Homo sapiens: one gene and its partners. The protein of the gene in region 3 purifies or fractionates together with the protein of the main gene of each other region. This does not show direct contact. Each region holds a gene or a part of one and is shown on either strand. Other genes may lie near its edges.

Evidence for each region.
Region 1: the proteins of DEFB116 (region 3) and HS6ST3 purify together in Homo sapiens (affinity purification with mass spectrometry; one large-scale study listed by BioGRID and IntAct). This does not show direct contact.
Region 2: the proteins of DEFB116 (region 3) and INSRR purify together in Homo sapiens (affinity purification with mass spectrometry; one large-scale study listed by BioGRID and IntAct). This does not show direct contact.

What each region holds. Positions count from the first base shown.
Region 1 is NC_000013.11:96,088,651-96,093,057, reverse strand, and holds the start of HS6ST3 (heparan-sulfate 6-O-sulfotransferase 3), read right to left. Parts: upstream 2,952-4,407; 5' UTR 2,196-2,951; coding exon 1,489-2,195; intron 1-1,488. UniProt on the Homo sapiens protein: 6-O-sulfation enzyme which catalyzes the transfer of sulfate from 3'-phosphoadenosine 5'-phosphosulfate (PAPS) to position 6 of the N-sulfoglucosamine residue (GlcNS) of heparan sulfate.
Region 2 is NC_000001.11:156,845,618-156,849,117, reverse strand, and holds part of INSRR (insulin receptor-related protein precursor), read left to right. Parts: intron 1-70; coding exon 71-197; intron 198-2,360; coding exon 2,361-2,599; intron 2,600-2,998; coding exon 2,999-3,166; intron 3,167-3,303; coding exon 3,304-3,499; intron 3,500-3,500. UniProt on the Homo sapiens protein: Receptor with tyrosine-protein kinase activity. Functions as a pH sensing receptor which is activated by increased extracellular pH. Activates an intracellular signaling pathway that involves IRS1 and AKT1/PKB.
Region 3 is NC_000020.11:31,305,771-31,310,195, forward strand, and holds the start of DEFB116 (beta-defensin 116 precursor), read right to left. Parts: upstream 2,816-4,425; coding exon 2,749-2,815; intron 1-2,748. UniProt on the Homo sapiens protein: Has antibacterial activity.

The DNA of each region.
Region 1 (4,407 bases), on a different chromosome or scaffold from region 3:
CACTGAAGTAATAGTGTTATGTGTTAGGAGGTTTGGAAGTAATACTTAATTGAAAAACTGTTTTAAGCTAAAAGAGAGTGGCAAGATCCAAAGTAATACACTATTAAAAATATTTAAAAGCAAAGGATCCGTAAAATATACTAAGAGAAGAGCCTAATTCCCTCATTCCAAATCCAGTTTCTTATTCTAACTAATGTGCAGGAAACAGGAAAAGGAGCAGGGAGGAAGGAAAGTATCTGAAGAATTGCCAGAGTAAAAAATCTCATAATGAAATTTTGCTCATTCTTGGAGAAATGAAGTAGAATTAGATGCTTCAGTGGTGGTGAATTCCAGAATCTGGGTAGCTTCCAGTAAATGAAGCTTTTCTATAACGTCAAATGCAAAAGCTATCTGGGATATCAACATAATCAGCTTGAGCTTTTAAATTCCTATTTCCTCATACCAAATTGTTTGAAACCTTTAAGATAAAAACTTCAATGAACTAGTGTTCCAAGCTTTTAATATTTTCGTCCTTTAGCAAGCATGTCAGATTAATCTTCAAATTGCAATGGGCAGAAAGGACCTTCAACCAAATTATTAAGCCCATGTCTCTCTCAAAGCATGTTAATAATGTAAGCAGTTTCATTGGCTATTAAGATTTTTAACTTTCTTAATTCTCCACTGTATTACTGTTTTTTAAGGCTGGGAGGCAGGGGATCAAGAATGTCATTCCATCCTGAAAACAAGGGATGTTATGTTATCTTTATACTCACTTAACACCTAGCACACTGTCAGGCACCCTGTAGGCATTTAACATACTTTTGGAATAAGTTGATGTAATGGCCTAGGAAGAGCATGGAAATCTTTCTGAGGACAGGTGAGTCCAAATCCTGGCACTGCTGGGCAACAAAGACCATCTCCAGAATTAGAGTTATCTATCGCGGTAGAACAGGAATTTGCACGTGTGTCTTCAAAGTGGCATCAAGAGGATTGACTGTTTCCTGAGCTGCCATCCAAAAGCCACTTAGGGAGGGATTATACTCGTCTCCAGCTTCACCACGCCTGGAAAACTCGTGCCTTGCCTCTCTACTCCCCCTTCCTTTTCCTGGGTTTGGGTTTACACTCCCAAAACTTAAGTTCACAATTCTACAAGGCTGGTCTAACCCAGACCGCGATCCGCTCCCCATTTCAGGGCGTTTTTCCAGCGTCCACTGGGAGGGAGGCCAGGCCGTGCTAGGCAACAGGCAGGATCCACACGGTGGCTCCGCACATCTTAGAGGGTGAAGGCAGAGGGGTGGCGGGAAGCGGTGGGGGCTGGGGGAAGAACGAGTTCAGGACCTAGGCACTATCCGGAGGTTTCTCATCCCTCCCCAAAGCCACGGCGCCAACCGCTGAAGACGCCAGGAAACCATCGGCAGGGGCAGGGAGCGCGGGGTCGCTCTGGGTCAGGACTGAGGAAGAGGGATGGGGGGTGGGGGGGAAGAACAGAGACCCAGCGGGCGACAGTACCTGGTGTGGCTGTGGTTGCGGGGACAGTCCTTCTTCTCCATGATGGCCGGCACGCAGTTGGTGAGCTCCGTCCAGTCGGCGTGCAGCCCGCAGCTCCAGCCGGTGGAGAAGCGGGAGAAGAGCCACGTCTCCTTCTTGCCAGGCCGGTGGCAGGTGCACTTCTTCTGACCCGCTTTGCAGCTACAAGGCTGCTCCAGCCGGATGTTCTTCACCAGGTGCCGGCCGAAAGTGGTGCCCCCCGTCTTCTGGATGTGGAGGAACACGATCACGTCGCGCCCTTTGATGTTGAAATCCACGAAGCGGGTCAGGTCCTTCAGGCTGAAGTTGAAGCGCGGCACGAATCGGGGCAGGGAGCCGTTTTCCGGGGCCTCGGGGTCCGGCTCGTCTTCCTCCTCCTCTTCCTCCCCCTCCCGGGGGTCTCCGGGCTCCTCGTCCTCCTCCTCCGGCGCCGCGGCCCCCCGAGGTCCCTCGGGGGGCCCCCGGGGCGGCGGGGGCAACTGGGGCCGCCGCTCCCACTCCTCCGGCGGCGCCTGAGCCCGGCGGGCGGGACCCGGGACGGCGGGCGGGCCGGCCTCCCCCGCGCGGGGCTGCTCCCCGAAGTTGGTGCAGGAGCTGGTGCAGGAGGGGGACACGTACTGGTACATGATGACCACGAAGAGGAGAGTGAGCACCGGCGTCAGCAGCCACTTGTTGAACCTTTCATCCATGGTCCCGCTCTCAGGCCGGCAGGCGAAGCGGCGGCGGCGGCGGCGGCAGGGCGGACGGGCGCCCGCTCGGAAGTTTCGCGGACTCCGGGGCGCGGCTCGGAGCCCGCCGTTCCTCCATGCCCCTGACGCCGAGGCGTGTGGCTGGCTGGCGGCCCCGCGGCCCTCGGGGCTTGAGGAGCCGGGGCCTGCGAGCCGGGCGGGGGAGGCGGGCGCCGGCGCGCTCGGCTGCGGCTGCGGCGTGGGGCGCCCTGCGCTCCCGGGTGCGCCCGGGCCGGCCCGCTCCCTGCTCCCGCCCCGGCGCGGCTCTCTCAGGCGACGCGCGGCATCCCGCCGGCGGCTTGCAGGCGCTCAGGCGCTGGGGAGCGGGGTTCGGGTCCTGGACCTGCCGCGCGCAGCCGGGCAGCCGGGTAGCTGCGGCCGCGAGCGCCGGGGCTGCATGAGGCTCGCCAGGGCGCCGGCCAAGGGCGAAGGCGCGGCCCGCTCCCGCCGCCCCGGCCGGCCGCGGGCACCGCGCCCGGCACGCGCGCCCGGCGCCTTTGCCGGCAGGTCGCGGGGCTGTGGAGCCGCGAGGGCTGACGGCGCTCGCCGCAAGTTTGCAGAGCGGCCCCCGCAGCGCAGCGGCAGCGGGCGAGGCGCCTCTGCGGAGACGCCTCTCCCGGCGAGTCGCACTGCCGCTCCGGGCTGTCCGCCCAGGCGCAGGCACGCAGACACACTCGCACACACAGGCTGGCACCGCCACAACCCGCCAGCCGGTGTGACAGGAGCCCTGCTACCCGCAGCAAAAACCTGCCCTAGGTACGGAGCATGCGCCAAAGCCTCCCCCAGCCCCGGAGGAGTTTCCAGGGGAGGAGTCCGCTGCTCCGCGGGGCTCGGAGGAGGCAGCTGGGGGTGGGAATCCCTTCGGCCGGGAGCAAGGAGAGATTTGGCAGAAAGGCAAAGGTGGGGCGAGAGGAGGCCCCGAGGTAAGCGTCGCTGGCGTTGATCTGACACCTTAAAATGGGCAGCTTCTCTGTCTGGTAGTGGCCGGCCTTATTTTCAGGAATAACACCTGCACACTCCCGGGAACACTCACTAGACCAGACTTTACACGGGTTGGCAGTTCCCTTCTCAGCAGGGGAACGTGGCTCCAGACTGCTGTGAATTTCTACCCAAGACATTCTAACTGGTGTTCGAGTTTTATGGTGGTCCTCCCTTAATAACAAACTTGGTGCGTCCAACTATACAACTGTATTCAACCAGCATCAATTAACCATTAAGCGCCTAACTGTGTATCAGGCTCTATGTTCAATACACACTTTCTTTCAGCACTAGACAGTCCAGCCCTCAACCATGCAGTACTTAGAACATAAAAAGGAGTTTAGGGATCACCTCCTAAAAAAATCATTCTACTAATAGACGTTGAACTCCTAAATGTTCAAGATTTATTCCTTCCCAACAATGGTGGAAGATAACACTTAAGCTTGCCTATATTTCATAAGCCCTAATTTGTATGCAGATGTTTTTTGGAAACTTTATTTTTCAAACATCTAGATGTTGCATTTAGTATTACCCCAGAACTAAATCTTTGCTCAATAACAACTTCTGTTTTTCAGATAGTGAAAAGATATACGATCAAATTGTTGTAACTGCCCTACCACAGTCCCTAGACCTGCTCGACCTATTTTCCGAGTGGAGAGTGGCAATGTGTTAAAGGCAATGTGTGAGGACAATGCAGTGTGATTCCCTGGCCCAGACCAATGTGTCCCTCCCAGCTACACTACCGTATTCCACAGGTGTGCTATAATATTTCATAGCAGCCCACCGTCCCATCTGGCCTTTTTATGAATCCATGCACTTGTTTCTTCCTGAGACACTCTGTCGATGTCATCTATTTATCAGGGTGTCCCCTCTGCAGCCATCAGTGAAGATCCAGGGCTCTTTCAGGGATGCTAAAGTTTGCCCATAGGATACTATTTTCCTTGTTTAGACAGGTGGAATTCTTCTCAATAAAACTTCCCTCCTCTATTTCCTTTCCCGTTTTCAACTCTTTAAACAACTCCAACCCTTGCCTTTCCTAATATGTAGGAGGCTATATCAGTAGAAAAGGTGTTGGGTGAGATGAATCAGCTTCTTTAAAGCTTATTTGATTCTATTTCTTTTTCTCTCACTTAAGTTTGAAATCCTATTAATGGCATCACACCCCACTCCACAGCAAGAAACTGTGATAAAACAA
Region 2 (3,500 bases), on a different chromosome or scaffold from region 3:
CCGCGGGGTCAGGGTGGGCGCTCAAGCAGCTGGCAGGCGCGGTTGCGAGCAGGCCCCTCGCCCCACCCAGGCCAGACTCGCACCCTGCGCTTCGTGTCCAACGTGACGGAGGCAGACCGCATCCTGCTACGCTGGGAGCGCTATGAGCCACTGGAGGCCCGCGACCTGCTCAGCTTCATCGTGTACTACAAGGAGTCGTGAGTGCCGGGGGCGGGGCCGGAGCGGGGGCGGGACCGGACGAGGCCAATTTCTTCGGGACCACAGGCAGGTGAGGGCGGAGCTCAGCGAGGCTATGAAGACCCAGGAAGCCAGGACCCGCAAGTTGTACTCCGTGGTAGGGCCCAGGTCTGGCTCTCTTCCCTCACCTTCTTCATGCCTTCATGCCTCGGTTTCCCCTCACCAAGTGAAATGGAGAAGACAGGGCTTCTGAGAGCCCAGGAGAGCCATCCTGCTGGGAAGGCTTGGATCATTAAACTTCACTTCATTATGCTAATGTTCTACACTGACCACACGCTCCTGCCCCAGCAGCGGTTTGGGGAGCGCCCACTAATTTGGCCAGTTTTATGAGCAGCTCTGCCAGCATTTCATTTAAGCCTTAGGAAGGGAGGGAGCAGGGGCCGCCAGGGACCACAGCTGCTCTTTTCTTTGGAGAGAGTCAACTGACCCTAACAATGAGGATAGTGGTTAGACCACAGGAAAGACTTCTCCAAAAACACGGTTAGGAATCAAAAGGAGATATCCTTAGAGGAGGGAAGTGGATTTCAGATGCAGGCTGGGAAGGCAGGAGTAAGGAGTTCATGCTCTCTCTCTCTGGTAGATATTATAGAAGATGGAGGCCACCTGGCTTAGAAGCATTTCCTGTGAATTAAAATGGAGAGGACTTAGCTGACCACTGGCTCAGGGTCTGGCTTGGGAGGAGAAAGGAAGGAAGTCAGTTGTAGGAGACCCACTCAAATGGCCGAGACCCTCCTAGGTCTCAGTGGTAGGTGAAGGTCTCCAGCGTGGGCAGCTGGAGAGTTTGTTAAATACAGATTCCTGGGCCTCGCCCCCCACTGATTCTGATTCAGTTAATCCTGAGCAGGGCCCAAGAATTCACATGTCTAATAAGCTCCTAGGAGATGCTGAAGCTGCTGGTTTGTGGACTGCACTCTAAGGAGCCCTGGCATGACTACAGTGTGAATCTCCCCCAGCTCCCCGGCTTGTGCACTTCACAATCTGCACAACTATACACAGCTGTCTCTGGGCTCAAAGAGCAGAGAACCTTGGGAACCCTTCAACAAGCTTCCCTAACATCACTGCCCTGCAGCGTGGCTGCAGCTATGCTCCCTCAGAGACACACACTGCAGATCCTGCCCAATCCTGACTCCAAACAGACCCAGACCTGCTCAGTGTGTCATGCCTCACAGGACACCTGCTCCCATGACACCCACTATGAGCCCCCACCCCCCCAACCTGCTCCTGGACTATCCTGCTTATAGGTCCCAACAAAGGCAGGCACTTCCCGCTGGGCCACAAGTTCCCCCACTGCCACCCAATTTGACCTCCCTCAAGTTTTGTCCCTGGCTCAGCATGAATTCCATCATCCCCTTCCCAGTCCAAAGAAACAAATTATCATGAACATCAATGTGATGTTCCATTGTCTCCCATGGTCTGTTCTGCTATCTCCCATGGGGGGCCCACTGTCATCTCCCCCAGGGAGCCCTCTTCTACCCCTAAAGCCAGTGATGCTTCCCCAAGCCCTGCCCCGAAACTGGCCTTCAGGCAGCCAGCACTAGTTGCCTCTGGCCCCTTAATTTCCCTGTGGCAGTGGGTCTTGGCCTTTTAGGGTCATGGACATGTTTGAGAAGCTGTTGAAGCTAGGAACACTCTCTCTAGAAAAACACACATGCACAAAACTTTGCTATAGTTTGGGAGGCTCATAAACCTCCAAAGTCAATTCAAGGGCCTAAGTGAAGACACTGGGAAGGGAGCAGTCTCCTGTTCCTCGTTCCAGGCAATTAGACTTAGGGGAATTAGGATAACCTTATTGCTTGCTGTTTCTAGGAGAGGGGACTCTTTCACACACACTTTCTTGTTTTATTTATTCAATGCAAGATTTTTTCAATATTCATTGAAACTAGAACTTGATATTCCCTGCTAAGGATGAGGAGCTATATCATTACAAATTTCACTGACACAGATATCACAGTCCCTCCCCTCCTCCGCCCCCCCTTGCCAAGGTCTAACAGGTGGCTGGAGTCATGGCTTTGCCCTCATGCATACTGGAAGGACAATGACAGTCCTGGGGTGATTCAGAGCGGGGGTGCCAGAACTTGAGGGTGGGGTTGAATGACCCCTCAGCTCTGGGGATGGGTGTTCAGCCCATTCCAGAACGCCACAGAGCACGTGGGTCCAGATGCTTGTGGAACCCAGAGCTGGAACCTGCTGGATGTGGAGCTGCCCCTAAGCCGCACCCAGGAGCCAGGGGTGACCCTAGCCTCCCTCAAGCCTTGGACACAGTACGCAGTGTTTGTGCGGGCCATCACGCTAACCACTGAGGAGGACAGCCCTCATCAAGGAGCCCAGAGTCCCATCGTCTACCTCCGAACGCTGCCTGCAGGTAGGCATTTGGAGGGTGCAAGAGTCAGTCAGACGCCTGCATCCATGAGAACAGGGGAGCACAGGCACCAGAAATAGAGAAGCCGGGGCACTGAACACCTGGCCCACAGAGGCTGGAAGGCCAGATGCTTGAGTCCTAGAAAGAAGGGGGAGCATTTGCCTAGGTCCTTGCGGGGCTGGGATTGGGACAGTCCGGGGTCAATAGCTGAGGGAACTGAAGGGCCTATGGCAGAGAAGGGGAGGACAGAAACAAAACACTGAGTTCTAGGAAGCCAGGGGTGAGGATCACCTATTCTTTGGGAGAACAAGGCTGTTGGACCCCAGAAAGGAGGGCTCATTACTAGATAGTATTCAGGAGGAAGACCCACACCCCTGAGTTGCATCCTTCTCGCACTCCTAGCTCCCACGGTGCCCCAAGACGTCATCTCCACGTCCAACTCCTCCTCCCACCTCCTGGTGCGCTGGAAGCCACCGACCCAGCGCAATGGGAACCTCACCTACTACCTGGTGCTGTGGCAGCGGCTGGCAGAGGACGGCGACCTCTACCTCAATGACTACTGCCACCGCGGTGCGCAGGGACGACGCGCAGGCCGGCCGCGGGGCGGGTGGGGAAGGGGAGATGGAGGCGCAGGGCCCCGGCAGGTGGGGGGGATCAGAGGCGGGTAGACCGCCTGTCTTACTAGTGTCTTCCCGCTGCGGCGCCAGGCTTGCGGCTGCCCACCAGCAACAACGATCCGCGCTTCGACGGCGAAGACGGGGATCCTGAGGCCGAGATGGAGTCCGACTGCTGCCCTTGCCAGCACCCACCTCCTGGTCAGGTTCTGCCCCCGCTGGAGGCGCAAGAGGCCTCGTTCCAGAAGAAGTTTGAAAACTTTCTACACAACGCGATCACCATCCCCATG
Region 3 (4,425 bases):
TGTTTGTGTAAAAAAGAGGTTAATAAGATGTCATACTTCATAATAACCTGGCATATTTTTACGTATATTCATACTAAGTCTCTAGAATTTCTGATTCAGTATATCTAAGGAGAGGCCAGAGCAAGGGTGCTTTGCAAGAGTTCCCCAGAAAATACTAATGGGCTCCTGTTTGCAGTGAAAGCCACGATTCTGCCTAGCCTTCTCACATTCAGCTATAGACATTGCCCAGCTCATTTTTCCACATTGGAAGTGTATTGAAAGCAAATTAAACTGTCTTAAGTCAAAAAACAAAAGGTATCCTCTGGACCTTTTTAAAAATTCCATCCCAAGCCAAAATCAATGTGATATATTATTTCTCTGCCTGCTGTGCAACCAAACATGATCCTCTCCCATCCAATCTCTAAGGTTATTTCTACTCATATATGTTTATTAGCCATGATTCATTACATATTCATTCATTCAATAAGTATTTGCTAAAGCCTACTCTATTCAACACACTCAGCTCAACATCAGAAATGTGTAGATTTAAAAGACAAAGTCTTGGCTTTCAAACAGTTTAATTTCATATGCATACATTTGGGAGGATAAAAGGAAAAATTTGTTTGGATTGTCCTAATAGAAAATGTTGTCCAGAACTGTTCCTGCTCATAAATTCTGCCAAGTAAAAGTACTCAATAATTATTAAGGAAGCTACACTATGTACAACTCTTGAAGCATAGAGTGCTGTCTTCATTTTTGTTGTTGTTTGTGTTTCTTGCAAACCCACTTGTGTTTTCTACCACCATTAGAAATGAGAACTGAGCTTTACTGAGCATGAGAACAAATGTCTCTTGAGCAAAGGAATAAAAGAAGCTGAGAAATAAGGAGGCATGAGAATGTGAAATAGAAGGAATATGAGAAAAGAGAGGAGGAAAAGAAGAAGAAAAACAGAGAAGAAAGAGGAAGAGGAGGAGAAACCTCTAGATCAGATGAATCTGAACTCACTATCGAGGAAGGAAGAACAATCTTGGTTTTCTATAGGGTGGGCTGAGACTGCTCCCATATCTCTCTGTACATGCCAAGATTTGACAGGAGACAATTCCAAACATTCCAGTCTCCTGACTTCCTCTATCTCAGCCATCTACAGTCACATCTATTGTTCTTCAGTGCCCTTGAAAATCACACTTAAGAAACTTTCTTCAGAATTTGAAAATAATACTGGATATTTTTCATCCAGTGTTTATTCTCCCCATTTCCTTATTTAAATCACTTTGTTGAAGTACAATTGGCACACAAAAAGCTATACATATTTAATTTATACATTTTGATGAGTTTGGAGATAAGCATACATTACACCCATGAAACCATCATCACAATCTATGCCATAAACCTATCCACGCCTAAAAGTTTTCTCCCACCATCTTATTTATTATTTTTGGTACATCAAATCTTATTTTAAGAACACTTAACATAAAATCCACTCCCTTGGTAATTTTTGAAATATCCAACACAGTACCGTTAACTATAGGAACTGTGTTGTACAGTAGATTTCTAGGACATATTCATGACAGTATAGTCTCTTCAATAAATGTATTGGGAAAACTAGGTATCTAGATGCAAAATAATAAAATTGGATATTTATCTTACACCATACACAAAAACAAATTCAAAATGGATTAAAGACTTAAATCTAAGACCTGAAACTATAAAACTCCTAGGAGAAAACATAGAGAAAAAGCTTCTTGACGTTGGCCTTGGGAAGGATTTTCTGGATATGACACCAAAGCACAGGCAACAAAAGCAAAAATAAACAAGGGGATTGCAGCAATCTAGAAAGTTTCTGCACAGCAAAGGAAACAGTCTACAAAATGAAGAAACAACCTATGGAATGGGAGAAAATATTTGCAAATCATATATCTGAGAAGGAGTCAATATTCTCCTTATTTCAATAGCCACAACCCTGCTGTGATGAATTCAACTGTCTTACTCAAGCTTAATCACCCCCAAACCCAGGCTAAGTCAATCCCTGCCCAGATAAACCTCACATACCCATGACTGAATAAGATACCCACTTTAGGCAAACACTAACTACAACTCAAGCCCTACCTCTTCTAATAACCACCAAAAGCCCAACTGCAAAACATACAAACATAACACTATCCAAGCCACCCAACCCCATTCACAGCATCAATCTAAAACACAACCCAGCTACAAACCTCTCTATACCCCAACTCCCAGTTGCACCAACTCTACCCCAGCTCCATTCAAGAAAAAATACCATTTCCTCTCTAGAATGCACCAAAACATCTATTCAGCCCAACCTATAAATACAATTATTCACCCCATGCTCATCCCCACTCACTTTTTGGATATTACCCTATCTCTAAGGTCTTACAACCTCCCCACCTCAACTCCCTACCCAACTCCAAACTGCTATACCCCTCCTATAGCTCCTCAACTTGCACACAGTCTCTCACACCTAACTCATGAATTAAGCCCCCATCCCAATGACAGCACTACCTAAAATGTTCCATGCTTAGACTGTCCACTATGCCAGGATCAACAACCTCTTCAATTTGTCTTGGCAGAGCAGAACCAGGGGAGATCTTTACATGAAATTAACCTTGGGAATAACATCTGTGACCCACCTGAGACCAGAAAAGGCTTTAGGTGTTGCCCACTATATGTGAGTAGGAGTCACTGCAGAGGTCACCAAGATACCAGTACCACATGCAAGACGCCAGAACCTTTGAGAGAGGCCTGAGTTACCTGGAGTCTTTTGAGCCAGGATCATAAGGATGGCAATGGTCATTAAACAGGGCTTCATGACTGACATGTTCCACCAGAATGAAGGGCTGTGTTGCAGGTGACCAAACAGAGATCACTGTAGCAGAGCAGTAGCCCGCCTTTATTAGTTTTGGAAATGCGTCAGGGTTCTGTGCAGTGAACTAAAAGGGATGGGAGATACCTGATGTCAGGCAGGAAGAAGGACAACATGTATCACTTATCTGAGCTGGATACTCTGTGTAAGCGTGGGAGACTTGCCAGCAGTGCTCATGTCTGTGTGGGCCTTTCTTCCCATTAAGAAATAAAGACAAATTAGAGCCAGTTGGCATTTTGTGTGAAACGAATTTGAATGAATGAATCAACCAAGCAAGCAAGCAAACTTGAAAAAACTTATAAACAATTAGATAAGAAATAAGCACGTGTATACCTATGTGAGGCACGTGTATACCTATGTAACAAACCTGCACGTTCTGCACATGTACCCCAGCACTTAAAGTATAATTGTAAAAAAAGAAATAAATAATTATTTTTAACTGTAGTCACCATGCTGTGCCCACAGAACACCAGAACTTATTCCTCCTATCTAACCGAAAGTTTGTACCCATTGACCAATGTCTCCCCTTTCCCCATCCACCCTCCCTCGAGGCTCTGGTAACAACCATGCTAATCTCTACGTCTATGAGTTCAATTTTTTTAGATTCCACATCTAAGTGAGATCATATGGTATGTGTCTCTCTGTGCCTGCTTTATTTCACTTCACATAGTGTCTTCTAGGTTCATTCATATGATTGCAAATAACAGAATTTTCTGTTTTTTAAAGGCTGAATAGTACTCCAGTATCTATAGTTAATAATAATGTAAAGAGCTAAAAGAAAGATTTTTAAATGACCTCATCACAAATAAATAATAAATATTTGAGGTGATGGACATGCTGATCTCTCAATTAATTGATCCCTTTATTATTATATAATGACCTTCTTTGTCTCACTTTGTGGTTTTTTACCTAAAGTCTATTTTTTCTGTTGTAAGAAAAGCTGTTCCTGCTCTTTTCTGGTTTCTTTTTCCATGGAACATCTTTTTCCATCACTTAACTTTCAGCCTATGTGTTTCCTTAAAACTGAAATGAGTCTCTTGTAAGCAAAATACAGTTGAGTCATTTAAAAAAATCAATTCAGCCACTCCTTCAATTGGCAAACTGAATCCATTTACATTCAAAGTAAGTATTGATAGGTAAGGATTTACTTTTGCCATTTTGTTCATTCTTTTCTGGTTATTTTATACATCCTTTGTTCCTTTCTTCCTCTTTTGCTATCTTCCTTTGTGATTAGATTATTTTCTATATTAGAATGCTTTGATTCCTTTCTTCTTATCCTTTGTGTATCTACTGTCAGTTTTTGCTTTGTGATTACTATAAGGGTTACACAAAACATATGTTGTTATAACCGGCTGTTTAAAGCTGATAACCACTTAACTTTGGTTGCAAAATATGATTCTACATTTTTATTGTATCTCTCCTGATAATTTATGTTTCTGATGTCACAATTTACTGTTTATATTGTGTGTATCCCTTATCAGATTATTGTAACTTATTATTAATAGTTTTGTATTTTGTTTTATACTCAATATATTAGTGACTTATCATCTTTACAGTATTAGAGT